Homo sapiens: one gene and its partner. The protein of the gene in region 1 interacts with the protein of each later gene in a biochemical or structural test. Each region holds a gene or a part of one and is shown in the gene's direction. Other genes may lie near its edges. The genes, in order: CACNA1B and APBA1.

Region 1 (15,750 bases):
TGTCTTCGGTGACCATATGTAGTCTGTCTGCTGGAAAATTGTCTAGATGTCCAGGGCTTCTGGGGACATTGACCTAGTCCTCAGATGGAGAATATGTGGTGCTCAGGCCACACCTTCCATTCTCACACCTGGGGTAGACATCACTAATCCATGCAGCAGTCTTCCCCAGCCCTGAAATCTCGGAATTTTGCTCAGCCCAACCCTAACCCTAACTCCTACCAGCCAATTCAAGGTGATGATTAGATGGAATATTGTTGCCACCTGTAATCTGGTCCAATCCCCTAGTTGTGTAGACAGGGAAACTGAGGTTTTGAGAGGTGACATGGCTTTCCTGAAGTCACTGACAGGCAAGGTTTTGAGGAGATGCTGTAAGGGTCCCCTGGCTTGCTTCACTGTTTTGGTCACATGCTCATATTTAGGGACATATCAGGGAAAGTAAGCGGCCCCTTGCTAAGGGGAAAGAGCCCTTAGGCTGGGCTTGAACATGACCTGGCTTTTGCCCCATGCCACATGGTCAGAGCAGGTCACAGAGGCCACATTGCAGGCCCATTGGAGCTCTTTCCCTTCCCTTTGCCTCCTTTGCAGATGGGTCCTGTGTCCCTGTTCCACCCTCTGAAGGCCACCCTGGAGCAGACACAGCCGGCTGTGCTCCGAGGAGCCCGGGTTTTCCTTCGACAGAAGAGTTCCACCTCCCTCAGCAATGGCGGGGCCATGTGAGTATCCAGATGCAGGACATAGCTGGACAGGAGGAGGTCCAAAGACAGTAAAGGGGGAAGCAGACATCCCATTTCCTCAACCTCCCTGGCCCTCACTTCCACTGGCCTCTGGGTTCACCAGCTTGGAGGCACCTGAGGGGCGTGTCTGCCATCCGACCCTGCACTTGGGCCCTTAGCAACCCTCCAAGGACAGAGAGCCCCTAGGCCACATCTCAGTTCTCAGGGGCTGGCTTTGCTACAGATGCTTGTTGTACTTGCTGCCTGAGAGCAGTCAAGGGCTCTTCCTTTGCTGGGTTTCTGTGGCAGACTTTAAAATCGTTTCCTGTGACATTAGACAGGTGCTTCATCGAACCCGCCTTCCTAACAGCACTTAGACCACCACGTCCCATTCCCAACACACGCACCTGCTTCCCTTTCAGACAAGAGGCCCCTGCCCCTGCTCCTCATCGGCCCTCCGTGCCAGCAGACGCTGAGATTCCACCTCCATCTCCCACCCCTTTCTGTCAATGGCCTTCTACTGCTCTGATCTTTCTAACCCCGTAAGGCACTTTTCCTCTCAGATCTCCACTTTGGTACTGATTTCTGAAGCTGTTATATTTTGTAAAGAAATTGGTAAGGTTCTTTTGTATCACTTAACTCTTGCCACAATATTTCCGGGTAACAAATCACCCAGAAGCAGGTGACTTACAAGAACCATCACTTTTTCCCACTGTGGCCCAGAAAAGTGTGCTCCCAAATCTCAGGACCCAGATCCTGGGGGCTGACTCCCGAGCCGCTGGCAGCCCCCCATTCCCACACTGCTTTCAGCATGCTGTTGAAAACCTTCCTTGCATTTAAAGTCCTGATTCTGACTGTATGTGCAGGTGGGAGGAGATAGTGAGGTGTCTGGGGTTTATCTAAGCCAGGCTTTCAGCAGGAAATTGAGCTTCTGTTATTTCTGTGATGGTAGTTTCTACCTAAATCAATTACAACTCCAAGTCAGAGAGCACCCACTCAGACTGGGTCTGGTGAGGGTATTTATTGAGCCATTTAGTGAGCGGGTTGAGCACACCTCTGGCCTTGGACGTGGTGTTATTTCAGGGTTAGCGGTGCATTAGGAGCCAGCTCCGGTTCTCCTAACCACCCCTCCTCTCAGCACCAGCCTGCCACTGCGGCCGCTCTGTGCCTGGTGCCAGCAGGGGCTGCAGTGCCCCAGACAGCATGGAAGGAGAGCTGCTTGCAACTCTCAGAAGACAAAGGATGGGGCTTCTCAGAAGCCCCAGCAACCACCAGTGTGTCCTTCTGCCATCTCTGCGTCCACTGCTGTGGTCAGGGTGTGGTCCATTTAGACTATCAGGCTCCAGTCTGAGCTCAGAGTGATCAGTGCCACTCAACCTGCATGACTAAGAACGTAGTCTTCAGTGTTTCACTGAATGTGAGAATGAGCACTCACCCGAACACATTCCACGCCAGTTGGGAGATAAGTGATGAGAAATACCAGTGCGGAAGTATCTCCGGGTGGGGCTGTTGGGGCAGGCGTATGGGGAGCATGTGTGGGGTGGCCTCCGCCAGAAGGCTGCACCCCAGCAGAGAGCCGAGGGATGGAAGGGCTCATTGTGGCTTGGGGGGGGGGTCAGAGAAGTAAGGAGGAGCCACCAGCAAGGGACCCCTGAGGGAGGAAGCCCCTAGAGGAGGAAGCCCAAAGAGTCCCGGGCGAGGCCCCCTACCCCCCGTCCCAGCCCGTCCCCTCCATGACAGCTTTGCCCTCATCTGTCCCAGCCTGTCCTCTCCATGACAGCTTCTCTTGCTGTCTGCTGGCATAGGCAGGACTTCTTCAGCTACTGTCCTAATGCAGGCTGTACACATGCGGCCCCACTCCTTCCCAGGATAGTCCTGTGTGGCAAGGACAACCCCTGCTCCCACTTCACAGATCAGCCTCTTGTCCAGAGGAGCGGGTGACGGACCCAGGCCCCCCTCAGACTTGAGCACTGTGGGCTGTAAGCTGGTGCTCTGCATCCTCTCTGCCACTCTGAATCCCTTCTTGCTCTGACCCTGTTTTGGATCCATGTCCTTTGATGAGGCTTTGCCTGGGTCCAGCGTGCACAGGCCACGTTGGGGCTCTTGTGCCCAAAGGAGGGCTCAATTCAGTCCAGAACAGGGTGGCCAAACCCCCTGACCTCTGCTGCATGTGTTGGAGACGCCTGGCAGGTTGAAGCACCAGGCTATTGGTAAGGCACCTGCAGTCTCTGACCCTACAGGAATCTGTTTGTCTTCTCTGCCACAGACAAAACCAAGAGAGTGGCATCAAAGAGTCTGTCTCCTGGGGCACTCAAAGGACCCAGGATGCACCCCATGAGGCCAGGCCACCCCTGGAGCGTGGCCACTCCACAGAGATCCCTGTGGGGCGGTCAGGAGCACTGGTGAGCACTCCCGGGGGCTAGTGAGACTGGGTTGGGGGATGTGTGAACAGGGATGGGGGATGTTTGAGACTGGGGTGGGGGACGTGTGAACAGGGATGGGGGATTTTGAGACTGGGGTGGGGAACATGTGAGACTTGGGTGGGGGACGTGTGAGACTGGGGTGGGGGATGTGTGAGACCAGGGTGGGGGACGTGTGAGACTGGGGTGGGGGATGTGTGAACAGGGATGGGGGGTGTGTGAGACTGGGATGGGGGATTTTGAGACTGGGGTGGGGGACGTGTGAGACTGGGGTGGGGAACATGTGAGACTAGGGTGGGGGACATGTGAGACTTGGGTGGGGGATGTGTGAGACCAGGGTGGGGGACGTGTGAGACTGGGGTGGGGGATATGTGAACAGGGATGGGGGGTGTGTGAGACTGGGGTGGGGGACGTGTGAACAGCAGTGGGAGTTAGGTGAGACTGAGATGGATTTGGGTGAGACCCCAGTGCCTCATGGAGTGAGTCCGGGGTGGGATCAGATGAGTCCGCGGTGCCTTGTGTGGTGGGACTAGGTGAGTGCTGTATCCACAGGCTGTGGACGTTCAGATGCAGAGCATAACCCGGAGGGGCCCTGATGGGGAGCCCCAGCCTGGGCTGGAGAGCCAGGGTCGAGCGGCCTCCATGCCCCGCCTTGCGGCCGAGACTCAGGTAGGTGGTCTGGGAGGGTCCAGGCCCTGGGCTGGGCAAGTGGGGGGTGGGGAAGTGGGGCTGTGGCTCTGGGCCTCCTGCAGGTGAGGAGAGCTGGGGTAGAGAGGCTGGGGTCCATGTGTGGAGCTCTTTGCTGAGGCAGGAGCAGGCACCCCGGGCAGTCCTGTCTGGGCGCCGACAGAGGTGCAGCCTGGACGCCTTCAGCCCCTGAGGCTTCTCCAGAGGGTGGGTCAGGTCCGGTAGAGGACAGCTGTGCCTGTTCTCAGCCTCCTATTAGGGGCCATGGGGCATAGGGGCCCCCACTCTGGCTCAGCCACGTTCTGTTCCTCCTTTCCGGGGCTCTACTCCCTGAGACAACCCCCACTCTCATCCAGAAAATTTCACCGACACCTCAGTCCCCTCTCCCGCCCGTGGTTCTGCGGAGGACCCTCCCTGCTCATGGGCAGTCCCTGGACTACTTTTCTACCCAGCTCCTTGCTGGGCTCGCCTCTTTCTGGGACATGCACACTGGATTCAGGAAGAGGAAGCTCTGGCCCCATGTGTTTCCCGGGGGAGGCTCCTTCCACAAGGACACTGGGAGGATCGCCCCTCCGAGGCCAATCTGGGAACACTGTGCCCCGGCCTCCGAGGCCTCGGAGGAGCTGCAGGGCCTCACCTGCAACATGAGCCTGCTTCAGTTGGCCAAAAGTGACCGGAGCCCCCGTGCCAGCCCTGTCCCTCGGCCGACCTGGGCTGTGGAGCTGTGGATCTGAACCTCGTCCGTGGCTCGTCTCCCATCCCACTGCTGTGGCCAGCAAACCCTTTTCCTCTCCTCACTGCCTCTCCTCCCTCTTAGGGTTTTCTCCTCTTCCCACCTGTCCTTCCTCTCTTGTCTCTTTCCCCGCCCAGTGGTACCCTCCTGGGTGCTGCCTGGTGGGTGGGTGCAGGCTGAGCCTCCCTGCAGCCTGTGCTGGGGCCTCCTCCTTCACACACGTGATGCATTGGCGGCTGTGGGTGAGTTTACCTGGGAGGGCCTACCCGTCCCAGGTGTCTTCACGGGTCCTGATTCTGGCCGTGGAAGCAGCTCGGGAGCCAGTCCACCCCAGACGCACCAGGCAGAGTGATCCCATTGCAGCCAGCAGAGGCGTCTCTGGTTTCCACTCAGGGTTCTTCCAACCAAGCCAGCCACCTCTCTCTTCCTGGCACGACACATGGGATGGGGCGGGGACTCAGGCACTGTCTGCCCCCAGCCTGCCCTCCTGGGCTACCATTTCAGGCCTGGGTCCTTCTGACTGTGAGACCAGGATGGGGGGCGTGTGGGCCTGCTGTCTGGCCTGCTCCACCACCCACTTCCATGCCTGCATTCCCGCTGACCCTGGTGCCTCCCCTAGGCCCACTCTCAGTCCTTTGCCCACAGCCCGTCACAGATGCCAGCCCCATGAAGCGCTCCATCTCCACGCTGGCCCAGCGGCCCCGTGGGACTCATCTTTGCAGCACCACCCCGGACCGCCCACCCCCTAGCCAGGCGTCGTCGCACCACCACCACCACCGCTGCCACCGCCGCAGGGACAGGAAGCAGAGGTCCCTGGAGAAGGGGCCCAGCCTGTCTGCCGATATGGATGGCGGTGCGTGCGGAGGGGCCCGGGGAGTCCTTCGGGGAGCTATGGCCCGAGTCAGGGGGTCCAAGCGGCCCATGGGGGACCCTCTTCCTTTGTGGGCCTCGTGACCCCATAACCAGCCAGAGCAGGGTGGGACTGAGGCCCAGGCCCTAACCCTCACCCTAGCCTCCCCTGGCACCACCTGAATTCTGTCCTGCTGGGCCCGGGGGTCAGGGGTCCCTGCCTTGGGCCTGGCCGTGCTAACTTCTTCTCTTCCCTGGCCAGCACCAAGCAGTGCTGTGGGGCCGGGGCTGCCCCCGGGAGAGGGGCCTACAGGCTGCCGGCGGGAACGAGAGCGCCGGCAGGAGCGGGGCCGGTCCCAGGAGCGGAGGCAGCCCTCATCCTCCTCCTCGGAGAAGCAGCGCTTCTACTCCTGCGACCGCTTTGGGGGCCGTGAGCCCCCGAAGCCCAAGCCCTCCCTCAGCAGCCACCCAACGTCGCCAACAGCTGGCCAGGAGCCGGGACCCCACCCACAGGTAAGAGGAATAGGTGGAGAGGTCAGGGCCCAGCTGCCTCTCCTCGGCCCAGCACCCCTGTCCCACAGGCTCCTGCCTCTCCCCAGGGCCTCGCTGCTGCCCTTTGTCATTCCCAGCAACCCAAGGGCCGGGCGCTCCCCTCTGTGCCCTGTCCCGGAGCCCACGTCTGCAGCCTACCCCAGCTGTGTTCTCATCAAGCTCCTGCCTGGGTCACCCTGGGACAGTGGTTCTGCGTCCTATCCACTTTCGGACCTGGGCCCCCAAATACTTACCTCTCTCTCGGTCACTTAACTCTCCTTCCCTGACTGTGGTCGTTGGGCTTTTGTTCTGTCCTTTTCCCTGGCCCCAGCCTGTCCCTTCCCATCACCTGCTCTCCCCAACCCCATTCCTGGGCCTGACCCTGACCATCGCCCTCCCCCGCACACAGGTGCCTGTTGCCTCCCTGGTCACCGCAGCCCGTTGTCCCCCATTGCCTCCCTCTCTCCTCCCATCCCCCCAGGCACCTGTGTGTGATGTGCTCTGTCTGTTGGTTCGGCTTTTTTTTTTTTTTTTTTACCTCTGATTTGTTCTGGTCCATTTTCATGTAGGGCAGTGGTTCCGTGAATGGGAGCCCCTTGCTGTCAACATCTGGTGCTAGCACCCCCGGCCGCGGTGGGCGGAGGCAGCTCCCCCAGACGCCCCTGACTCCCCGCCCCAGCATCACCTACAAGACGGCCAACTCCTCACCCATCCACTTCGCCGGGGCTCAGACCAGCCTCCCTGCCTTCTCCCCAGGCCGGCTCAGCCGTGGGCTTTCCGAACACAACGCCCTGCTGCAGAGAGACCCCCTCAGCCAGCCCCTGGCCCCTGGCTCTCGAATTGGCTCTGACCCTTACCTGGGGCAGCGTCTGGACAGTGAGGCCTCTGTCCACGCCCTGCCTGAGGACACTCTCACTTTCGAGGAGGCTGTGGCCACCAACTCGGGCCGCTCCTCCAGGACTTCCTACGTGTCCTCCCTGACCTCCCAGTCTCACCCTCTCCGCCGCGTGCCCAACGGTTACCACTGCACCCTGGGACTCAGCTCGGGTGGCCGAGCACGGCACAGCTACCACCACCCTGACCAAGACCACTGGTGCTAGCTGCACCGTGACCGCTCAGACGCCTGCATGCAGCAGGCGTGTGTTCCAGTGGATGAGTTTTATCATCCACACGGGGCAGCCGGCCCTCGGGGGAGGCCTTGCCCACCTTGGTGAGGCTCCTGTGGCCCCTCCCTCCCCCTCCTCCCCTCTTTTACTCTAGACGACGAATAAAGCCCTGTTAGAGGATGCGGCTCTCTCTGTCCCCTTCCTGTCCTGCCTTCCTGGGTCTCGTACCACACACCAGACCCTAAACCGCAGGCTGCTGTGTGTGGCTGAGAAGGACCCAGGAGTCCAAATCCCGTGTCCTGGGACTCAGCATCCAGCATGGGTGCTTGGAGCCGTTGTGAGGAGCTCTGCGTCCTGTGGGGAGCACCCTTCACGTGGCCGTGCGGCACAGAGAAGCAGGGCCCACCTGAAAGTGCGCCGAGACCTCGGGACGGAGGGGATGGGGAGGGGGACACAGTCGTGGCTTGTGCAGCCCGCCAGTGTCAGCGAATGCTCACTCAGGCAAGCTCTGTCCTCCCTGGACACCGTCAGCCCCACAGGAACCGAGCTGGGAAGTGTTCTTGCTGTGGTTGTGATTTTTAATTGCAACACCTCTCATTCTTGTCACTTCTATATACGTGATGTAGAAAAAATGGAAAACCAGAAAAATGGGGAAGGAAATGTTCACATAACTTTAAAAAATCAAACCTGTGAAAGAAAGATGTCAGCTTTTTGCCACGTGTCTTTGTGGCTTATGCGAGGAGACTCCCTGTGCAGCCCTGTCCGGTCCAGGTGGACGTAGACGGCCCCTGGCTCTGCTGCTCTTGACCAAGTGCCTGACCGCCAGGCCCTCACACCCAGGCTCCTGGGCACTGTGGTGTGAGGCGAGGCCTCGGGATCCATCACCGCAGGATGCTGTGAAAAGTACTCGCGATGGCAGCCAGGTAGCAAGCCCTTGCCAGTGGAGAGCACTGGATGTCATGGTGGCAAACAAGGCAGCCATTTGCTGTCCTCCTCCCACGAGTGGAAGGGGTTTCCAAGGAAGCCACAGGGCAGCTGACCACGTGCTTGTGTGAGGCATTTTCAGTCTGTTCTGCATATGATTCTCAGGGCACACTCTGTGGTATGTGAAATAGGTTTCCTTCCACATACAGCAGAAGAGAGGCAAAGGCTGGTAGGAAGGAGGAAGACATTGGCTGGGGGCTTGGATGTGGGGCCGTCAGGGCAGGAGGGAGGAAGCCCCAGCTGGAATGAAACTCAGAGCAAGTGACCGAGGGAGGACACGGCTCCTGCCACTGAGGCCGGGCACCTGATGCCCAGCACTGTCCTGGCGCCAGACACAGGGAGCAGGCAGTCAAGTGAGGTCTGACCCCCATGGCCACGCTCAGGAGAGAAAGACCATGCTCAGGACACTGTCCAAGGTGCACAAGATGCTGGGAGGTCCCTTGTTTGGTGAAGAAAGGGAGCATTTAGAGCAGTTGATGGTGGTGTGTCCTCCGTGTTCTGAAATTCCAGATGATCTGTGTTGGATTCTTGGCTTCTACCCCATGATTCTCCTCAAAGAAATTGTGTGTGATGTGTGTGTGTGTGTGTGTGTGTGTGTGTCTGTGTCACAGGAGATGCAGTGCCTGTACAGGTGTGTTCAGTGTGTGGATGTCATTAACCCATAGGGCTATGCAACAAAAGACACATTTAATAGAAGTAAAACACACAAGACCGCTGCCTGGTCTCGGGGTTCAGCATGATTGTGACCAAACCTTTTTATAGAATTTCCTTACCTGAAGGCACAACACTCTGAAACTTTAAAGATAACAGAGTATTTTATTCCAATAGAATAAACCAGGAATCTCGGACTGTGCATGTGATCACTGTGCTCCTGTTGCAAAGTAGAAGGATGTGTATTTTGACACTGACGTTTTGTCTCTTGTTCCCCAGCCCCCAGCCCATGTTATCTTGGGTGTCGAATGTGTCCATTCCATGCAGAACCACAGCCATTTCCCCAGGCAGTGTTGGGTCGAGAATCCACTTTTCTAAACCCACACAGCCTAGCTGGCTTGTCTAGACTCTTCTAGGCATTGGAATTGATGAAAACTACAGGGAGCGGGGAAAGGAGACATTATGTCTTGTTTTCCTGACTTTGGGTTTTGTTTCTCACTGTGTCTTCTCCGGCTATCATATATGTCCCCTGAATCTCATAGTGAGCTGCCAAATTTGAAGTGCATCACCCAGTTGTCTGCATCTGGAACCAGTCAAGCAGTGGCTGTAGTTTGAACAAGTTATGTGTGCATGTAACATATATACATATATACATATATACAAGTATGTGCATGATAATGTATATCTTCGTACTTTTTGATACAATGTATTCATTTGTTAATTTTTAATTATATTTGATATAAATCAAAGGTTTGTTGCAAAACTTTATATTTAAGAAGTGTTAAAAAAAAAAAAAAGTCCCAACCATGCAACACAACTGGGACCTACTTAAAAAGAAATTCTGTGATTGACTAGTTTGCTGCCTGAGTCATATTTATCAGCCAAACTTTGGATTCTGCTGTTGTTTCTACAATGACATTTTGTATGAAGCAAAGTCCTTGAATTAAAATAAAAACTTAGCAAAAAATCAAAAACAAAACCCCACCATGCTGCCATTGGTATATGCAAGGGTGTGGGCCTGGGGTGCACTGCTAGGAGGGGTCAGAAGAAAGTGAGAACTGCAGTTTGTTGTTGTTGTTGTTGTTTTGTTGTTGTTGTTGTTTTTTGACAGAGTCTTGCTCTTGTTGCCCAGGCTGGAGTGCAGTGAGGCAATCTTGGCTCACTGCAACCTCTGCCTCCCGGGTTCAAGGGATTCTCCTGCCTCAGCCTCCAGAGTAGCTGGGATTACAGGCGTACACCACCATGCCCATCTAATTTTTGTATTTTTAGTAGTGACAGGGTTTCACCATGTTGGCCAGGCTGGTCTCAAACTCCTGACCTCAAGTGATCCGCCCACCTCAGCCTCCCAAAGTGCTGGGATTACAGGCGTGAGCCACCATGCCTGGCCTGCAGTTTGTTTTCAATGCAAGTGTGGGATCAGGTTTTGAGAGTGTGGTGAGGATCAAGGGAGGCACTTGGCAGGAGGAGGCAGATTCAACTTCCCTGGGGATCAGGGTTAGGGTTGGTTAAGATTACAGTGGTGGGTTAGGGTTGGGGTTGGGTAGAGGAGGTTCTGGGAGGCTGTGTGAGTTTGGGGCACAGAGCTCCTCTTAAGATGCCCCAATAATCATTCGCTCTGCTGTTAAAATGTTAGGATATTGCTAGCTACATGCTGATAAGGACAAAGGGGACATCCTTAAGAGAAACCTGGCACCATAAGTACAGATTAGGGCAGAGAAGGACATTCGAAAGAGATAGGCAGGCACAGTAGGTACAGACATGACCACTGTAGGACCTTCCTGGAGTGGCAGGAAGGAGCCCAGCCCCAGCAGTGGAATCACACTGATCACTGCACATATGTGTCAGCCAACAGTGAGGGGGTCCCACAAGCCTGGGTGGGGCAAGTCAGGGATCTAAGGAAGGAGCAGGAAAACCAGACAAAGAAAAGAGGTGGAGACTTGAGGAATGTGAAGAAGTCCAACATAAAACTCCCTGCTCAGGACCCTGGGGCTGTGTTCCTGCAGATCAGCCCCACTTCTCCCTTGAGGCATACTTATTTTTTCTACAATAAGCTCTTTACACTATATTTCTTTTCAATGAAGTTATCTGCCATCTTTGTACTGCCTCTTGGTGAGAATCTTTCTTTCAAGTTAGACAAGAACTGGGACATCAGGTCTCCCCAGTATTAGCTCCATTTCAGTTTGAATTTGCAGAATTGATAGTGCTGAACAACCTGCACTCCAACTTTAAGTGGTGTAGGAAGAGGCCAGCAGGGTCAGACCCTGAAAACAGACCAGCCACGTCTCCCAGGTGGACGCAGCGGGTTCTCCACGAGCGTGACTTGGGGATTTACGGCACTGAGACCGTGCTACCCACCCCCCCTTAAAAATCCCTCGTGGCTCCCAGTTGCCCTGAAGGGGAATCCCAAACTCTTCAGAGGCAGCACATGCTGGTGGGTGAGAGTTGGGAGCCTGAGTCCAAGTTCCAGCCTGGCTGCTATCGGCTGTGTGACCACTGGCAACTCGCCTAACCTCTCTGGGCCTCACGGGCTCGTTGGAGGATGTGGTGAGAGAATGACCGAGATGAGCTTAGCACAGTGCTGGCCACACTGTCGCTGTTCAATGCCAGGTGGCTGTGGCAGCAACAGGGCCCTGCAGTGTCTCCAGCCGCCAGCAGGGTGCGTGCCGCCACTACACTGGGAGCAAGAGGGCCCTGCAGTGCCCTGGCCGCCAGCAGGGGGCACGAGGCCATGACACCGTGAGCAAGAGGGCCCTGCAGTGCCCCCGGCCGCCAGCAGGGGGCGCAAGGCCATGACACCGTGAGCAAGAGGGCCCTGCAGTGCCCCCGGCCGCCAGCAGGGGGCGCAAGGCCATGACACCGTGAGCAAGAGGGCCCTGCAGTGCCCCCGGCCGCCAGCAGGGGGCTCAAGGCCATGACACCGTGAGCAAGAGGGCCCTCCAGTGCCCCCGGCCGCCAGCAGGGGGCGCAAGGCCATGACACCGTGAGCAAGAGGGCCCTGCAGTGCCCCCGGCCGCCAGCAGGGGGCGCAAGGCCATGACACCGTGAGCAAGAGGGCCCTGCAGTGCCCCGGCCGCCAGCAGGGGGCGCAAGGCCATGACACCGTGAGCAAGAGGGCCCTGCAGTGCCCCGGCCGCCAGCAGGGGGCGCAAGGCCATGACACCGTGAGCAAGAGGGCACTGCAGTGCCCCGGCCGCCAGCAGGGGGCGCAAGGCCATGACACCGTGAGCAAGAGGGCCCTGCAGTGCCCCCGGCCGCCAGCAGGGGGCGCAAGGCCATGACACCGTGAGCAAGAGGGCCCTGCAGTGCCCCGGCCGCCAGCAGGGGGCGCAAGGCCATGACACCGTGAGCAAGAGGGCCCTGCAGTGCCCCCGGCCGCCAGCAGGGCGTCCACACCGGGCCGAAGCGAGGGTGAAGCCCGCGTCCTCCTCGGCACAGACCCGGGGGGCACCGCCTCGCTTTGGGACAACTCGAGGCCATGGTGAGTAAAATCCTTCCTGTTTGCAGCCCTGACTACTGAGGGTTAGAGACCAGTAAGAGGGGTCGGTGTGGGAAACTGGAAACCAAAAGCCCCTCTGAATCCTGAGCACTGAGGTTCTCCCCACCCAAGGCGAGGCGGGCGCAGTGCGAGGTCTACACCGCGGCCTTGGAACACAAATGGAGCGTTCCTAATGCAGATATGCCTCCCGAAATACGAATGTGACACTCGCAGTGCTCAGGTAACAAACACCTGTAATGCTAATGCGCTGCCTCAATACAAAAATGTTAATATGAAACCCCGTGCTCCCCACACGGCCCCGCAGTCCCCGCTCATAATAATCAACACTGACATAATCAACACAAACGTAGCCTCCAGCTGCTCACAGCTGCTGCTGAGCTGGAGCTGCCTCGGGCTTGGCCTCCACAGTGGAGCTTGTTGTCGTATCTGCTTCACGGACGTGGAATTGACACAGTTGTTTTAAAAAGTAGCTTACTTCCCAATAATTCCATACTTTCAGGAAACTTGCAGCGGTAGTGTGGAGTTTTCTTTCTCTTTTCTCTCAGATTCCTCAGCGGTTGTTGCTGAGCCAGATCTGCATCTCACAGAAAACACCCCAGTGTTTTTCACCCAAAACAGGGACCCCTCCCAGGTAAGCGCCAGGTGACCCCAGCACAGGAGGCCACGTTTCTACCTGAGGGTCGTGTCCGCAGGCCCGTTTCACTTCACAGCCATCACGGCTGGGTGGAAAATGTCTCTTTCCATCTGGGTCCAGTTTTCCTTTTCTGGAGCCTTCGCAGAGTTGAAGAGCAGAGCTGCCCCCAGCCTGGGTCTGCACAGCGGTTCCCCCTGGGCAGATGCAGACGCCGCACTCCAGGTGGGAACTCGCAGCCTCTGGCAGTGCTCTGCACAGCGAGTTCCCCGGAGGAGCACAGACCCACCCACACCCCACAGAGACCTCAGGGTGATTGCGACAAAACTCTCCTTTACAAACAAGTCTCATCCCATCACTCTTCTTATTTAACTTTAACGATGGTTTCCCACTGGCATCAGAACAGGGGTCGCAGAACTGACCTGGCCCCCAGTCCCTGAGCGCTCCCACCTGCTGCCCTCTCCCGCCCAGCCCAGCCCAGCTGCCTGCGTTGCGGCCTCCACCTGCAGGGACACAGCAGGCTCTCGGGAGTCTTGGGAACTCTATGCACATCCAACACCCTCTTATCAAATACTCTTAAGATTCTGTCTACCTAGATCCTTCAAGTCACAGCGGTTATGATGTCTAACAACACAAATGTTCTGACGTGATTTTTTTAGACCAAAAAAAAAATGTTTGGTAGATCATATGTGAGAATCACCCTTAATTTATAAATCAAGGAAATAGATACATAAAAGCAGAGTCCATATTTGGGATAATCAGTAAAGAAAAATAAAATCTCAATGCAGAATGAAAGGCAGAGGGCACCATTGATCATTGAAATTTCATAAGAGTTTACTGGACAGAATATTACCTTACTATATTCTCCAGCCCTGTGTGTGTGTATGTGTGTGTATATCACACATATACCAGTTGCAAAAAATTTCAGGTTTAAACACTCATGTTTGCTTTTTTTTTTTTTTTTTTTTTTTTGAGATGGAGTCTGGCTCTGTCGCCCAGGCTGGAGTGCAGTGGTGTGATCTCAGCTCACTGCCACCTCCACCTCCCGGGTTCAAGTGATTCTCCTGCCTCAGCCTACTGAGTAGTTGGGATTACAGGCGCCTGCCACCATGCCCGGCTAATGTTTGTATTTTTAGTAGAGACTGGGTTTCACCATGTTGGCCAGCTGGTCTTGAACTCCTGACCTCTGGTGATCTGCCTGCCTCAGTTTCCCAAAGTGCTGAGATTAGAGATGTAAGCCATCTCGACTGGCCTACTCATGTTTACTTCATTAGTCAATACGGTTGATTAAGAAGTTAGGGTTAGGGTTGGGGTTAGGGTTAGGGTTAGGGTTAGGGTTAGTTTTAGGGGTTAGGGTTAGGGTTAGCTTTAGGGGTTAGTGTTGGGGTTTAGGGTTAGGGTTCGGGTTTGGGTTTGTGTAGTGTTAGGGCTAGGGTTTGGGTTAGGAGAATTGCTTGAACCTGGGAGGTGGTGGTTGCAGTGAGCTGAGAGTGTGCCACTGCTCTCCAGCCCAGGCGACAATGGGAGATTCCGTCTCAAAAAAAAAAAAAGGATAGTAATACCTACTTTTAACAGTCATGAGCAACATTTTTTTTTAATGTGGGTCACTTCTTTATTTTTCTGATTGCTAGAGCCATGTCTCAAATGCAAACATCCTCGTGCTTACTTCATGCAGCTTCAGACTCGCTCTGCAGACGAGCTGATGACCACCTTCTACAAGTGCTGCAATTCTCAGGGTGGACACTGCTGTAGGGATTAGGACTAGGATGGCCCAGCTGCTTCAGTGTGTGCTTACCTTGTCCCTTGGGGTAGATGCTTAGCTGGCAGTGTGAATCGTGTATCCTGAGGGTCTTTGCTGGTGTGGTGGAAAGACAAACCTTTTGAGGTGAAGAGCCAGGGTGTCAGGAAATGTGGCCTATCTGCTAGTCAGAGTGGATGAAGTCATGAATGTTGGGGAGTTTTTCTGTATGGGTAGGAGACGGAGACCCATAACTAAGTATGTGCTGTTTAAAGTCCTGTTCCTTCATCTTCTACATTTATTGGCAGTTGACATTCCCTTACTCCCAATCAATACTATTTTTTTTTATTTTGAGACAGAGTCTCACTCTGTCGCCCAGGCTGGAGCGCAGTGGTGCGATCTCTGCTCACTGCAAGCTCCACCTCATGGGTTCACGCCATTCTCCTGCCTCAGCCTCCTGAGTAGCTGTGACTACAGGCGCCCGCCACCACTTCTGGCTAATTTTTTTTGTATTTTTAGTAGAGACAGCGTTTCACTGTGTTAGCCAAGATGGTCTCAATCTGACCTCGTGATCCACCCGTCTCAGCCTCCCAAAGTGCTGGGATTACAGGCGTGAGCCACCGCATTCAGCCTCAATCAACACTCTTAAATGTTTGTACTGTTTGCAAAACTGAGTACATTAAATGTCTCTAAATATTTAACTGTTGCTTGTAAACTTAATTTAGTATTTATTTTAATCAAAATTCTGAATATTTCGTTAAAATGAAAGTTCTAATATTGCCTTCTCAGTGTTTTAAATAGCTTATTAAGTAGAAAGCAAACCCCAAATCACAGTGATCCCAAAATTGACTACATACTTAGATTTGAACAGGCTATGAAAATCCTCATCACTGGTATTTCAATTTATTTCTTTACTCCTATTCTTATTCCCTTATTCATTTTTTGAACCTTCCCTGATTGCTTCCTAGGGTTGCATTAAACGTATAAGATTCTATTTTTTTTTTTTTTGAGACACAGTCTCGCTCTGCCGCCCAGGTTGGAGTGCAGTGGCATGATCTCGGCTCACTGCAACCTCTGCCTCCCGGGTTCAAGTGATTCTCTTGCCTCAGCCTCCCAAGCAGCTGGGACTACAGGCGCATGCCACCATGCCCAGCTAATTTTTTGTCTTTTTAGTAGAAACAGGGTTTCACCATGTTAGCCAGGCTGGTCTC
Region 2 (16,412 bases), about 68 Mb from region 1:
GTTTTGTTTTGTTGTTATTGTGTTTGTTTGTTTCGGAAGACTTAGGGGTAAGAGATATTTGAAAATTGACCTCTGGGGCCAAAAGGAATTAACTGTAGTACCTTGGGGAGATAGGACTTTTATCCTAGAAAGAAGAAGTAATTGTTGCTAAAATTGAGAGAATTTCAAGCCGTAAAATCTGAAGTTAACTCTCTGGGTTACAATAATTAATTTGCAAACATTTGTTAATTGCCTCCCGCATCTCAGATCCACTGTACCTTTGGATAGGGGACAGGGAATGTTGAGAAGGGTTGGAGGTTCAAAGAATGCTAAGTCTTAGATCCTGGCCAGAGGTGGATCATGATCTAGAAGGAGAAAAGAGGAAATATGTTACTAACTGTAAAAATAGTGAAAAATGATTAAGTGCTGAAAAAGCAGTATTCCTGCAGAGCTGTGGGAGTTCACAGGGTACAAAGTGACTTCTGATGGAAGAATTAGGGAAGGTTACATGGGATATAGCATTTGAGCTGTGATTAAGGTGGCATTTGGGTTGGCAGAGAAGGAAGGGCATGCTTGGGGGAGGAACAGTGTAGCACAGGCCTGGCAGTGGAAGGTGTATGCCTACACAGGAAACAAAAAAATGGTGTGCTTTGGCTGAAGCGCTAGGAATGCCAAGAGATGTAATGAGGGATAAAGCAAGAAAGAGAGGTTTGTTCAAGGTGGTGGAGCAACTTGTACGCCAAGCTAAGGAGTGTGGATTTTGTTCAGTAAGGACTGGGGAACTATAGAAGATTTGTGAGGAGAAAGATTGACAGTATCAGAACTGTGCTTTGGGGCAATACTTTTGTAGTATTATGTTGGATGGAATGACATGGGAAAAGGCTGGCAGGAGGGAGACCAGATAGACTCTATTGTCAAAGTAGGGGAAAGATGGAAAGAGGCAGTGGGAGGCAAGAAGGGAACACACCTAAGAGGTGGTGTGCGGGAATTATCTGAGGAGCTTGAACAGTCACTGGAAAGTGAGGAAGGGAAAAGGGAGGCCAAAAGATCATTGTCAGGCTTAGCTGAGAGAGCAGTTGGGTCATTTTCAGAAAGAAGATATAACAGAGGATAAGGAAGAGGAGAGAAGTTTCTTTTTGAGCATGACAGGCTTGTCCAAGTTAAGGGACTAGAATACAGAGGGAGGTTAGAGCTACCAGGAGATTTGTAGGTCATCTGCTTAGGAGCGATTTTCATATCCCAGGAATCACTGATAAAGAAAATGAAGAAAGAAGAAGCAAAAGTAAGGATAGGATCCTTGAGGGATGTCTGTATGTTGGAGGGGAAAGAGAAAGAAGAGGACAGGAACCACGTTAAACAAGGGGCAATTGGAGAAAAATGATGGAAGTGAAGTGGTACAGTGTCATGGAAGCTGGAAGGGGTGAGGAGAGCCCCTGTCACTCACACAGCACACCCCATGGGTGACGGTGCAACCAAGGCAAAGCCATTGGATTTGACTCTTGGATTTCCTTGATTGTCTTTGTGGTAGGTGGAAGTGGCAGCCAGGGGCAAGGGTTGAAGGGAGGCGTGGGGGAAGGGAAATGGAAAGCAGTGAAAACAGACTTCATTTTCAATAAGTTGGGAGATAAAAGAGAAGGAGAGAGAGTATGATATATCACAACAATGGTGTAGTAGAGGGAAAGTGGTATTTTTAGTATAGGAAGACTTGAGCCTGCTTTATAAGCTGAGGAGAACAATCCATTGAGGGAAAAAGAGATTGAAAATGTAAGGGAGAGGCTCAATTGAGGGAATTAAGTCTTCAAGAAGATGGGAGGATACTAGATGAAAGCAAAGGAAGGATTCTTTTGAGACAGAAGCATAGGAATTTTGAGGTGGAAAGAAAGGAATTTGGCCACAGTCTTTTAAGTGAGGTCAAAGAGAGGTGGGCAGGTTGAAGCCAGGAGTAGAATGACAAAGACTTGTGGGCATTGTGGAAACAGAGCAGTGAGTCAATTAGGAGTGAATAAAAGATCATTACCCAACCATGAGGACCTCATGTGTTTGAAAAGCAGGAATTTGTAGTGAAACCAATTAACGCTATATAATTGGAGTTTGACAACTACTTAAGTAATTTTTGTATAGTGAGCATTTAATCTCACTAAATACAGTGGTTCTTCATTCCCTTAAATGCAGTAAAAAGAGGAGAATGTTTACCTTTAAAATTATCCAAATAAAAGACTCCACTTGTATTTCCTGTAAATATTCTCTCTCAGAGATCTGAGCTAAATTTTAAGAAGTTTATAGTAAAACAATGGGGAAAAATGTAAGTGTTTTTTTAAAGGATGAGCTTTTTCTATCTGTAATGGTAGAATATGGTTTTACAGTGACGTACATGTAAAGTCAGTTTTCAAAAGAAAAATCAAATATAGCACCTCGCCCAATACCATACCCATCATATGCATTCAATATACATTTGTCACATGAATACATGAATAAACTTTTTTTAAGTAAGCTAGCAACAGTATCTAAAATTTTAAATTTCAGGATTTCATTCTTACACAATGGACATCGAATGAGTTGCCTTTTATGGCCTGTGCAAGTTTATGATAGCATTAAAACTATTTATTCATACCTGATATATACATTGAAGCTTTATTTTTAAAAACCCCACATTTTTCACAAAATGATTGTGAACCCTTTAGATCCTTGAGTTATGGGATTATGTCATGATTCCAGGTGAGTTTATGGAACTTCAACTGTAATGAGTGGTGATTTTGAGGTTTTAATGATGAAATTTATTCATTCCTTCAACATACACTCATTGAACACTTTCTCTGGGCCAGAAACTATTCTAGGTGCAAGGAATATGGGGTGGGGGGAGGCATGTCCTTAATATCACAGAACTTTTAGTGGAAGGAGATTAAAAATAAATAAATAAGTAATTACATAATATGCCAGGTGGTAAGTGCTATGACGAAGAATAAAAGAGAGAGAGCAATGGACTGATGATAGTGGGTGGGTGGGGGGTGACATTAGTTTATATAGTATGGTCAGGGAAGACCTTAAGCAGAAAGAGCTGAAAGATGTGAAGTAGTGAGCCCTGCAGATATTTGGGGGAAGGGTCTTCTAGGCAGAGAGGATATCAAAAATGAAAAGGCTGGATAAGAACATGTTTGGCATCCTCAAGGGACAGCAGGGAAACCTTATTGGTTTCCTTGGTTTACCTGGAGCAGTCACTTAGGGAATTCACAATAAAATGCTTTGCCTTTCATTTTCAATTGTTTGCCCATAAGGCTGTATTACCATCTACTGTATTTGGGCTGACCTATGAATCAGTACTGGGTTTATATAAAGATGAATATCCTCAATCAAATGTATTTAAGTTAGAAAACAATCATGCCTGTAATCCCAGCACTTTGGGAGGCTGAGGCAGGCAGATCACTTGAGGTCAGGAGTTCGAGAGCAGCCTGGCCAACATGGCGAAATGCTGTCTCTACTAAAAATACAAGAATTAGCCGGGCATGGTGGCGCATGCTTGTAGTCCCAGCTATTTGGGAGGCTGAGGCAGGAGAATTGCTTGAACCTGGGAGGCAGAGGTTGCAGTGAGCCGAGATCACATCAGAAAACAAAGCGTGATTCTGTCTGGGTAGTGATGAAATACTAGTCAGCTGGAAGTAGTTCTGCTCCTTGGAACTTACATCTCTTCTGTGTCCTGAATCTTCTTTAAATATTGCTCTCTTTTCTTCTTCCTTGTTTCATGTTCCATTCTCAAGTATAAGATCCTTGAGGCTAGAACTTTGTTTTGTTCATCTGGGTATACTCTATAACACAGACTGACTCTCTGCATTAGTAAGGGTTTATCAAATACTTACGGAGAGGAATTGATGAGAAATTTCCAAAGATTTAAGTAACTCAGGTGTAAAGAATGAGGGTAAAGCTCGTTTACCTTGATTTCTGCAGATAGGTAGCTGTTTTTCAAACAGGACACAGAATTGCCATAGGATGCTAAAGCAGTTTATGCATGCAGACCCTGAGATGAGGACTTGAGTTCAGAATAGTTTATCTGAGAGACAACCTCAAGAAGCACAAGTGAGAGAATGGAGAAAATGACACAGGAGAGGGAAGAAAGCCCATTAAGAGGTGAGTTAATGAGCAGGTTACCACGGTGGGCAGCTGAGGCTTGGCTCTGCTGGCATTATATAGACTGCACATTAGGATTGTCCACCAAGCAGTGGAGAAAGTGGGGTCTTTATCCACCATTTCCCTAGGGATATTAAATCTTCAGTACTTTAGGGCTGCTAAGATTAGCCTGAGCAAGCTCCAGAGACACCAAAGAAAGCTCTTGAGCAGAGAAGCAGAGAGGCAGAGCCAGGTGGAAGTGGGAAACTGTCAGTGTATTTGGAGACTGTCGATACAGCTATAGCTGAACTCAGAAGTGGACATGGGACCCCTGTTTAACACAGCACAGAGGTATCATAAAGAATTTTTAACAGATAATAATTGGTTTGATGGCAGTTATTTTAATTTAGGGATTTTAATGTATTGTGACAACTGCCTGCAGTTCTGTTCACTCACAAGCCAACTATTGGCCACCCTCAGTTATCTGAGGTGCAGAGTACTATATATGCTCATGTGTAAGATACGCTCTGTTATAGGGTGGCCCTCAGTTTTCCAACAAGAGCGTTTATAAAAAGACTTTATGTCAACTTGAATATGCATATTCTAGGAATATAGGCAAAGAGTGAAGTATCTACTTATGTTTAATTTATTAGTTTACTTTCATATAATTGAAGTCACATTATATAAAATTATTAATTTAGAAATATGACATCCTTCCATTCTCACATTTTATGAAATCATTTATTCAAATACTTCACATACTTTTTTGACTTTAGAGTCTTTGTCATGATTAGGCCACTTTTGTCATGTTCATTTCTATCTAACTTTTTTGAGATATAGTACTTCTTGAGTTTCTGTATGATGCTACCACCACAAACTTTATTCCAAACCCTGTGTGCTCATTCACTTAATGTAAGAACGTTTGTTTTATCCTTTCTTCCTAAAGGAGTATATTTATGATCTCTGCAACCCAGCACTTCTGTATGTCTTGTGTAAAGACATCCAAGACAAGCAATTGTAAAGCTCCTTCCCAGGAATATTTACTTCAATTGGTGTTAAAATCATGGCCTCCTTTACTCTGTATTCATTCAGTCATTTATCTTCTTTCAATTGCATAGCCTTCAGAAGTATCCCTATCTTGTGTTGATTGAGTTTATTTCCGGCTATCTTCTCCAAATAGTTCTTAAGTAACCTCTGAAACACACAACTCCTTTTCATGAAATCTGCAGTCTTACCAGGTAATATGTTTTTTCATGGTTTCTCTCTTTAAAATCAGTTGCCGTCACATCCAGCATTAGTGAATTACATGGCTTTCAATTTCTGTTATCTTGGAGGTAACAGGGTTTTTGGCATTCAGAAGAAGGTAATTAAGAGAATACCCCACAATATGGGAGACTTTGTAAGCATTTATACATAAGGCAACTTTCTCTTTTCTGAAATACACATTTTGGAGGACAGAATCTCATCTTTTTGTATATGTAAAGTGATCACAGGAGGTTGTCAAGGTATGGTGGCAAAACCAATCCCTACACACTAAGTTTCCTTTTCAGCCTCCTCTTCTGTTCCATGTGGATTAATTAGCATACAATTTGTATGAAAAATACAGCAAATACAGCAATGATTTATTTCCTAATGGAATTAATTGGCCACCATTCCAAATAATGTAATCGTTATGTTTCTGACTATTGATAAATTTTGTATCTCGAGATCAATTCTGCATTTATTAACAGGCACACTTTATTTTAAAGAAGGATAATTGCCAAAGTATGTATAAATTCCTTTTTCTTGTAAATTGTAGCATATTTTAAAAGCAGAGGACGAGCTTAGAGTCATTTAAGGAAATTCCACTTAACAAGAATAATTACCCCCTACATTGGCTATTCAGTGAATTTGGACTTTTATACTGGACTTTACTAAAGTGGGTTGCATTCTGTTGCAGTGGCTTTTACACACTTTTGGCCATGATTCCTGGTGAGAACACAATTTAGATGATAGGCTAGCAACATAGATGAATGTGTGTAAACACATATACACACACACATACATCACTGAAACAAGTTTCACTCAACAATACTTGTCCTTTATTATGTGTAATCCACCCTGATGCTTCCTATCCTATTCTCTTCTGTTCTGTATGTTTGCCAACCCACTGAAGTAATCTCTGCATTGGTGAACCCTAATATGCAGTTTAGAAAACACTGCTGTATTGTATTACATTTATCAGAAGAGTGTTTATTTTCTTATAGTATGAAATAATTTCATGTCAAAAGTTGTTTTTTCGTTTTTTGAATTGTTAGCATATTTGGATATTTGGTGGTATGGACAAATGATGCAGTAATCACAGAGAGAAACTTTATTTTTGAGTAGACATTTTGTTTCCAAAAGAAGAAATTACATTAGTGTGGAAAAGGGAAAGTGGAGTAAGAAGAATAGATTTGTTCTTAGATCTGTGGCTTTCTTGGGTTGTGGGGACCGTGTCAAGTCACTGGGCCACAACCTCCTTGCTGAGCTGGTTCCTCACGATTCTTTCCTGTCCTTCACTCTTCCTGCCCCTCTTCCTAGCTGCTGTCTCTTAGCCTCTAGAGTTCTGGATGTTTAGTTAAATTACTTAATTCTAAATTTTAACCTAATATTATTTCTTCCCAGATGTGAAAATAGTTTCTACGCCCACTTCCCTTCCAAATAACTTGAAAATATAAGAATCATTTTTCCCTGAGCTAGTACCTGGAAGAGTTCTCTCCTAAAGGAGCTAGAATTTGTTCTACAGATGAAATGTTTCCATAGTATTAGGTCATATGAAAGCTTAACCTAATCTTATGTTCAGGTATGATTGTGTTCTTTATGGCAGGCTAGCTATCAAAGTACACATAAATTCCTTTTTTAAAAGCTCAGCAGATTCCCCATCCAGTGACTAAAAACAAGTTACAAAGTGTCAGGCATTGCGCTAAGTACTGTACACAGCTAACTCATTTACTTCTCATAATGACCTAATTTACTCTTCATAACCACATCAGGAGAGAACTTATATTGCAGATTGGACTTTGAGGTTCTCAGAGGTTCCTCAGTGGCTACAAAACAGGACAAAGGGGATTTGCCTCAGGTCTAGGCACAGGAATGGGCCCAGACAGTTGCTGGTCCTGGAGTCTATTCTGTCCTCTGGGCCCAGCAGTAGCTTCCCATCCCCACTGCCCCATCTTGACTCTCTTGTTTATGATGCCTTCATCCTACTTGGGATGTCTGTGTGTGTGTGTGTGTGTGTGTGTGTGTGTGTGTTACTGTTTGTCTTAGTCCATTCAGTGTTGCTATAACAGAGTACCTGAGGCTGGGTAACTTACAAAGAAAAGAAGTTTATTTGGCTCACAATTCTGGTGGCTGGAGAGTTTAAGACCAGGCAGCTGCATCTGGTAAGGGTCTCATGCTGCTTCCACTCATAGTGGAAAGTGGAAAGACAGCGAGTGTGTGCGAAGAGATAACATGGTGAAAGAGGAAAGGAGAGAAAAACCAAGGAAGCCAGATTCTTTTTAACAATCCACTGTCTAGGAAACTATTCCATCCTTGCAAGAGTGAGAACTCATTCATCACTGCAGGAGGACATTCATCTGTTCATAAGAGATTCACCCCCCATGACCCATGCACCTCCCAATACTGCCACATTGGGGATTAAATGTCAACATGAATTTTGTGGGGATGAACCACATTCAGACCATAGTACTGTTGCACCGACATCTCTCCATTCTTGGCCCTGTGGGGTGGCAAGGACTCAGAATGAGCTGGAATACAGTGCTGCCATAATTAGCCATCAACAGTGAACAAGTCTCCAGGTTGGTCTGAGCCTCAGCTTCTCCAGCTACAAAAGGGGAAATGATGAAACCTGCCCTTCCCATCTCTTCCTGCACAGGGCCGCTGGGGTCAAATAAAATATGAAAGGGTACAGAAAAGTAAGGTAGATGTCTCACTTCCTTCATCATGACATTGAACGAAAGTGACTCCCTACCTAGTTCTAATAGCTAGTGTCTCTTTCCTCTAAACCAGAAGTTGACAAACTTTCTCTGTTTAGGGCTAGTAGTAAATAGGTTTTGTGGGCCATATGGTCTCTGCCACAACTCCTCCACTCTGCCCTTGTAGTGCAAAAGCAACTGTACACAATATGTAAACCTATTAGTGTGACTGTATTTCAACCAAAGTTTGTTTATGGATGCTAAAATTCAAATTTCATATCATTTTTGCTTCACAAAATGTTGATTTCTCATTTAACTTTTTGCAACCATCTAAAAACATAAAAAACATTCTCAGCTCCAAGGCAGTACACAAACAGGCAGTGGGATGGATTTGTCCCACGGACCTCAGTTTACTGACCCCTGATCTAAACTCTCACAGTGCTTTGTACCACTCTGGATTCCAGCAGCTCATGCTCATCTTTTCCATCTCTCTTGTCCTTTCAAAATATGCACCCACCCACACACTCATTTTTTCATCTCCCTTAACACTGAGAAAGATAATAGCATATGTATAGTATGCCCCCCACATGTATATTCTATATGCCCAAGAAATATTTATTGAGTAAATCAGGATTAAAAATCTGTTGCTTTTGTATGTTTCCTGTTTTTTCATCTTTAAAGGAAATTCCACCTATTCTCTAGTAAAGCTTTGGGAATGATTGAGTTAAGATTTTGTGATTAAATATAAGGCTTTGAGATTCTTGCCTTAAAGTATTTCCCCCCTCTGTTATTAACCATAAAAGGAAAAGAATGTCAGGGAGGACAGAGAGGAAAAGCAAACAGACAAACAAAACCAACATTTCAGCATGAAAAGCGCTTGTTAGATGATAACTAAAGTGGCCAGATGTTTAGCTTTGCTCCCTTGGGTATCCTGCCACTATAGGGAACTCTGAACCGGCTGAAGTGTTTCATGCCTCAGCTGCCAGCAGCCCTTGGTGATATGCTTTCCCCAAAATTTAACATGGGGGCCAGAACTCCATGCATTTGACTATAAATAAAGAGGACCTCATAGAATGTACTTTATCTTTGTATTTCCCTACCATGTATTGAGGAATCATGCACATCTCTCTAAGAGCAAAGCCTTGAACATACCTCCTGTTTTTCTTCTTAATAAGTATAGACTTGGAAGTGGAATTATTATAACATATGTAAATTGACATTTCTTCTCAAAATGGACAGAAACTGTATGCTGGAATTATGGCAGGGCTGTTTGTGGTATTCCACATAGTCTATGATCAATATGTTACTCTATAATAAGGATTGTGTGTAAGTGTGTGCACGTGGGTATGTAGTTAAGGGGTGGGAAGAAATAAATATATTAAAAGCTTGGGACCAAAATCACTAACAGTATCTACTCCTTATTAAAATTTGTTAAGGAAAGGAACAATTAAGTCAGCTTTCTGTTGAGTGCTTAAGTATTTTAGCCTGCCAAAATATATTAATTTTCCATAACCTGGAAGAGAGATCCATGACACATGTAAAATAAATTATAAAGTATACTTTGACTTGACATAAATTGTTACTGCTATGGTAGATGATGTCTAGTCCTAAAGACAGAATTTTAAGCCAGTGTTAAAAGTGCATATCATTATACATTTAAGTCATGTGAGGTATTTGAAACCTGCTTGGGGAAGAGTGGAGGATGAGAGGCTCAGGATTTTGTTTGCTATTATGTCTAAGCTGCTCCCTGTGAAACACAACATGGTACTTACTGGCAGTGCAAAGACTGTTTTCAAAATTACCTTTAGTGGATGGATGCAGAGGCGATGGGGTGATGTGGAGAGGGCAGGCTTAGAGAGGACTGCATGGTGATGTGATGGGTAGGCAATTATCAACCCGTCTGCAGCTTCTCATGTGGAATGTGGCTCCCCTTGATGAAGTAGAGAGAATGTGCATATGAAAGTGGATGATTCAGGTGTCATTTATTATGATATCTGTACAGTGAATCTTTTACTCTTTCTGAGTTTAATTTTTCCCTCTCCTATCACATCTCCTGCTTCTCCCACTTGGGGAATTACAGTGTTTACATCTTTTTGTTTATGTTGATCACTCCCTTCCCTGCTGGAGGTTTTTAGCACAGTCTGCTTATCGTTGATTGTCTTTTCATATGTAGGACTGTGACACTGAAGCTGGCCAGAAGGTCTGTATAAGTTGGTGTGCTTTGCAGATGTCTTAGGTCAGAATCCTCAGAAGCAGACACCAAGAAGAGGGTTTGTGTGTATATGTGCTGCTCTATTAAGGAGATGCTCCTAGGAAAAACTGGGAAGGGAAGGGGAAGAAGTCAAGTAAGGGTATGCTCTCATTCAAACAAAATACTGCAAAGAGGGGCTTCAGCCTGATCCTGTGTGGGGTGGGGGAGCTCTGGAGTGTAAGTCAGCCTCAGAGTTGTCCCTGCCTGAATCTATGGGGTTGGTGTTTCATACTCCATACCTGTCAGTCTTCAGTTAAGAGAGGGGGTCTGTTGGGTGGGGACATAAATTCTCAGGTATTTCTGGCTCTTGACATGAAAGGGTGAAGCAAGTGCAGCCCTCCCAAAAAGAGCCATAGGTGCTGGCTGTTGGGTGGGAAAGCACATTGAAAGTAGGGACTTGAGGACAGGTGCAGTGGCTCATGCCTGTAATCCTAGCATTTTAGGAGGCCAAGGCAGGTGGATCACCTGAGGTCAGGAGTTTGAGACCAACTTGGCCAACATGGTGAAACCCTGTCTTAACTGAAAAAAAAAAAAAATTAGCTGGGCATGGTGGTGCACGCCTGTAATCCCAGCTACTCAGGAGGCTGAGGTAGGAGAATTGCTTGAACCCAGGAGGTGGAGGTTGCAGTGAGCCAAGATCGTGGCAGCCTGGGTGACAAAGCAAGTCTCTGTCTCAAAAAGGAAAGAAAGAAAGAAAGAGAGAGGGAAAGAGAGAAAGAAAGAGAGAAAGAGAGACAGAGAAACACAGAAAGAAAGAAAGAAAGAAAGAAAGAAAGAAAGAAAGAAAGAAAGAAAGAAAGAGAGAGAGAGAAAGAGAGAGAGAAAGAAAGAAAGAAAGAAAGAAAGAAAGAAAGAAAGAAAGAAAGAAAGAAAGAAAGAAAGAGAGAAAGGACTTGAGTAGGACAACATTGTCCATCAGCAGGCCTCTCTACAGGGTAACCAAGGGAGCTATTAGGTTGTTCCACTGGGAATCTCCACATTCCAGTCTTTTTCCTGAGAAGTAGCTGCTGGCTCCTAGTGATACATGTGTGTGGTGTGGAGCAGAGGGCTGGGGATCCTGCTGTTCTGGATCAGTGAACCTCCTGTTTCCAGAGCCTTCTCCACCCCATCCTTTGGTAGGCCTGCATCCCTGGGGTTCTACAGTTCAGTCATCTCAAAGAAAAATGTGTTGTAATCTTTTGTTTGTGAATATTCTCTCTTCCATTCTCTGTGGATTTATACCTGATGTATACCTTTATACTCTTTAAGAGGAAAAGAAGAGGAAAAGATTAAAAATATATAATTGATGGTATTAAGGTGGTAAATTTGTCACGTTAAACCAGGAGTCACCCAAAATAAAAGCTAGAGTAGAATCTAAAGTAAAGCTAAAGTAGTAAAATGTTTAAATATATATGTATACACACATATGCATATATATGTAAGTATATTCCTATAACTTCATAAAAAATAGGCTTAATAGTTGGTAATTAGCCAATCTAAGTATTATCTAGCAAAGTGCTATGTTAGTCAGAATGAATAGTTACAGTCTGTTGTAATCATTAGTTGGATAATGTCAGCCAGTGGCTAATGTTGATCTCATTGGGCTAAGCAGGGGGACTTCTGTCTTTCACAATGTTTTTGGATATTAACACTAGACACAGGTCAATAAACTGCTGATGTCAGTGTGAACCATGGTTCCCATGTCATCACATCAGAGTTAATCTTTGGAACTGAATAGTAAACAGAAACCTAAGTAATAACTGGCAGGCTCAGAAAACACTATTTGTTGTTCAAGGAATCTCAAGCAAAATCCACTGCCTTCTATATATAACACATTTATTGAATGGGCTGGACTCAATGGGATGCAAATAGCCATCATCTCTTGTTCTTCTCTTACAGCTTCTTTCTACCCACTTAACAGACTTGTCTTCTCTTCCCCATGGGAATAAAATTTTAGGCAGGTCTCTTAGATCTCCCGGTTAGGCCGGGCGCGGTGGCTCACGCCTGTAATCCCAGCACCTTGGGAGGCCGAGGCGGGTGGATCATGAGGTCAGGAGATCGAGACCATCCTGGCTAACACGGTGAAACCCCGTCTCTACTAAAAATACAAAAAATTAGCCGGGCGCGGTGGCGGGCGCCTGTAGTCCCAGCTACTCGGGAGGCTGAGGCAGGAGAATGGCGTGAACCCGGGAAGCGGAGCTTGCAGTGAGCCAAGACAGCGCCACTGCAGTCCGCAGTCCGGCCTGGGCGACAGAGCGAGACTCCGTCTCAAAAAAAAAAAAAAAAAGATCTCCCGGTTATTCTTAAGTGGTGAAAAGTTTGACTACTAGTCACATAATACATCCAATGTGATAATAAATAACTCAAATTCTCATCTAATATTTGATGTTTTTAAATTGCGATGTAACTTGAATAGTGAAGAAACAGAAATATCAAGCGTAGAGCTTGCTAAATTTTCACATATCTGAAAAACTATATAACTAGCACTTGAATCAAGACATAGAACATTTTCTGGCCCCTGGGAGGCTCCCTCATATGCCTTCTCAGTCAGTCAATATCAACCACTTTCAGAAAGGTAACCACTACTCTGACCTCTGTCACCATAGAGCAGTTTTGCCTGTTCTTAACTTCATCTGCGTGGAATCATATAGTATGTAGCCTTTTGCATCTGACTTCTTGTTTAATATTGTAGAGATTAATTCATGATTCATTCCTTTTTTGCTGTTTAATCCATTGTGTGAATATACTGAGTTTATCAATTCTTTTGTTGAAGGACATTAGGGTTGTTTTACTGTGAATATTATTATATGTTTATTTTGGTTTACATATACACTGATTTCTGTAGGGTATATACTCAGGAATGGAATTGTGGGGTCATAGAACAGGTATACATTTAGCTTTAGAGATATTGCCGGTTTTCCAAAGTGGGGACTACTTTGTCCAATTTATACTCCCAACAGCAGTTTATGAGAATCGTAGTTGGTTCCACGTTGGTGATAGCACCTGGTTTCCTACCATTTGTTTAGCTTGAGGTATTCTGCTAAGTGTGTAGTAGTGTTAAAGTTGTGTTATTTTTATTAATGTTGTTAAAATTGACACATAAAAATTGTACATGTATGGGATACAGTGTGAGGCTTTAATACATGTGCACATTGTATAATCATCAAATCAGAGTAGTTAGCATGTCAGTCACTGAAACTTTTATGATTTCTTTGTGGCGATAACTTTCAAGATCCTCTTTTCTACTTATCTTAAAATATATAATACCTTGCTATTAGCTGTAATCACCCTGCTAATGTAACAGAACTTATTCCTCCTATCTAACTGTAATTTTGTTCTAGCTTAGTTCTTTTTCTCAAGATCGCTTTGGTTACTTGGAGTCTTTTGTGGTTCCATATGAATTTTAGGATTGTTTTTCTATTTCTGTGAAGAATGCCATGGGTGTTTCTATAGGGATTGTGTTGGATCTGTAGATACAGTCATTTTAATGATATTAATTCTTCCAATTTATGAACATGAGATATCTTTTCATTCATTTGTGTCTTCTATTTCTTTCATCAGTGTTTTATAGTTTTCATTGTAGAGATCTTTTACATCCTTGCTAAAATTTAGACCTAGGTAATTTATTATTTTGTAGCTATTGTAAATGGATTTGCTTTCTTGATTTTTTTTCGAATAGTTTGTTATTGGTATATAGAAATGCTACTAATTTTCCATGTTGATTTTGTATACTACAACTTTCCTGAATTTACTTACTCATTCTAATAGTTTTTGGGGAGATCTTTGAGAATATACATATATATATACACACATACATATGTGTATATATGTGTATATATATTCATATCTGCCAGTAGGGGCAATATGACTTCTTCCTTCCCAATGTGGATGCCCTTTATTTCTTTGACTAATTGCTCTAGCTAGGACTTCCAGCATGATGTTGAATAAGAGTGGTGAAAATGGACTTTCTTATATTTTTCCAGATCTTAGAGGAGAAGCTTTAAACATTTTCCCATTCAGCATGATGTTAGCTGTGGGTTTGTCATACGTGGCCTTTGTCATGTTGTGTTGAAATATATTCCTTCTGTACCTAATTTGTTGAGCATTTTTATCATCAAGGATGTTACATTTTATCAAACACTTCTTCTGTATCTATTAAAATGATCATACGGTTTTTACCCTTGATTCTGTTAATGTGACGTATCATGTTAATTGATTTGCCTATATTGAACCATCCTTTCACCCCTGGGATGAATCCCACTTGATCATGATGAATGAACTTTTTAATGTGTTTTTGGATTTGGTTTACTAGTGTTCGGTTGAAGATTATTGCATCTATATTCATTAGGAATATTGGCCTGTAGTTTTCTTTTTGGTCGTTGTATCCTTGTGTGGTTTTAGTATTAAGGTAATACTGGCCTTGTAGAATGATTTTGGAAGTATTCCCTTCTCTTCAATGTTTTGGAATAGTTTTTGAAGAATCGGTATTAGTTCTTCTTTAAATGTTATGTAGAATTTAGTGGTGGAGCCATCAGTTCCTGGGCTTTTCCTTGATGGGGGACATTTTATTACTGCTTCAATCTCATTACTTATTATTGGTCTATTCAGGTTTTCTATTCTTTTCTTTTCTTTCTTTGCTTTCTTTTGAGACAGGGTCTTGCTCTGTCACCAAGGCTGGAGTGCTCCTAACTGGAGTATTCCTGGAGTGATCCTAGCTCCCTGAAACTTTGAACTCCTGGTCTCAAGCGATCCTCCCACCTCAGCCTCCCAAAGTGTCGGGATTACAGGAATGAGCCACCGCACCTGATCTTCTCTCTCTTTTTCTTAGTAAGTCTAGCTAAGGATTTGTTTATTTCTGCTCAGATATTTGTTATTTCTTTTCTTGTACTAATTTTGGGTTTAGTTCCTATTTTTCTAGTTCCTTGAGGTGGCTTGCTTATTTGAGATCTTTCTACTTTTTTGATATAGACATTTATTACTATAAACTTCCCTCTTTTTTTTTTTTTTTTTTTTTGAGATGGAGTTTCGCTCTCGTTGCCGAGGCTGGAGTGCAATGGTGTGATCTCGGCTCACCGCAACTGCCTCCCAGATTCCAGCATTTCTCCTGCCTCAGCTTCCCATGTAGCCAGGATTACAGGCATGCAGGCATGCGCCCGGCTACACGGGAGATGCCTGGCTTTTACTAGAGACAGGGTTTCTCCATGTTCGTCAGGCTGGTCTCAAACTCCTCACCTCAAGTGATCCACCTGCCTCGGCCTCCCAAAGTGCTGGGATTACAGGTGTGAGCCACCACACCTGGTCTAAACTTCCCTCTTAGAACTGCTTTTGCTGTATCCCGTAGGTTTTGGTATGTTCTATTTCCATTTTCATTTGTCTCAAGGAATTTTTAAGTTTCTATTTACGTTTCTTCATTGACTCATTTATTATTCAGTAGCATGTTGTTTAATTTCCATGATTTTGCATACTTTCCAAAGTTCCTTCTGTTATTGATTTCTAGTTTTGTTCCATTGTGATCAGAAAAGATTATTGATATGACTGATTTTTTAAATTTAAGATTTGTTTTGTGACTTAACATGTGGTCTATCCTGGAAAATACTTCATGTGGTGTTGAGGAAAATGTGTATTCTGTAGCTGTTGGATGGAACGTTCTGTAAATGTTTGTTAGGTCCATTTGGCCTAGAGTGCAGCTTAACTCTGATGTTTCTCTGTTGATTTACTGTCTGGATGATCTGTTCACTGCTGAAAGTGGGGGTGTTGAACTCTTCTGCTATTATTGTATTGTAGTCAACCTCTCCCTTTAGGTCTATGAATATTTGCTTTATATATTTGGGTGCCCTGGTGTTGAGTGCATATATATTTAGAATTGTTATATCCTCTTGCTGTACTGGCCACTTTATCATTATATAATGGCCTTTTTTTTGTCTTTAAGCCATTCTTAACTTTAAAATAATCTACTTTCTCTAACATAGGTATAACTACTCCTGCTCTTTTTTAGTTTCCATTTGCATGGAATATATTTTTCCATTCCTTCACTTTCAGTCTATGCATGTCTTTATAGGTGAAGTGAGTTTCTTGTAGCCAACACAGAGTCTTGTTTTTTTGTTTTTTTTTTGCTTGTTTTTGTTTTCCTGAGTTGGAGTCTCACTCTGTCACCCAGGCTGGAGTGT

What was found.
Region 2: the proteins of CACNA1B (region 1) and APBA1 form a complex in vitro, tested with the Homo sapiens proteins (one study listed by IntAct).

The regions. Positions count from the first base shown.
Region 1 is NC_000009.12:138,114,967-138,130,716, forward strand, and holds the end of CACNA1B (voltage-dependent N-type calcium channel subunit alpha-1B), read left to right. Parts: intron 1-585; coding exon 586-713; intron 714-2,979; coding exon 2,980-3,115; intron 3,116-3,685; coding exon 3,686-3,802; intron 3,803-5,198; coding exon 5,199-5,406; intron 5,407-5,664; coding exon 5,665-5,915; intron 5,916-6,502; coding exon 6,503-7,033; 3' UTR 7,034-9,653; downstream 9,654-15,750. UniProt on the Homo sapiens protein: Voltage-sensitive calcium channels (VSCC) mediate the entry of calcium ions into excitable cells and are also involved in a variety of calcium-dependent processes, including muscle contraction, hormone or neurotransmitter release, gene expression, cell motility, cell division and cell death.
Region 2 is NC_000009.12:69,652,960-69,669,371, reverse strand, and holds part of APBA1 (amyloid-beta A4 precursor protein-binding family A member 1), read left to right. Parts: intron 1-16,412. UniProt on the Homo sapiens protein: Putative function in synaptic vesicle exocytosis by binding to Munc18-1, an essential component of the synaptic vesicle exocytotic machinery. May modulate processing of the amyloid-beta precursor protein (APP) and hence formation of APP-beta.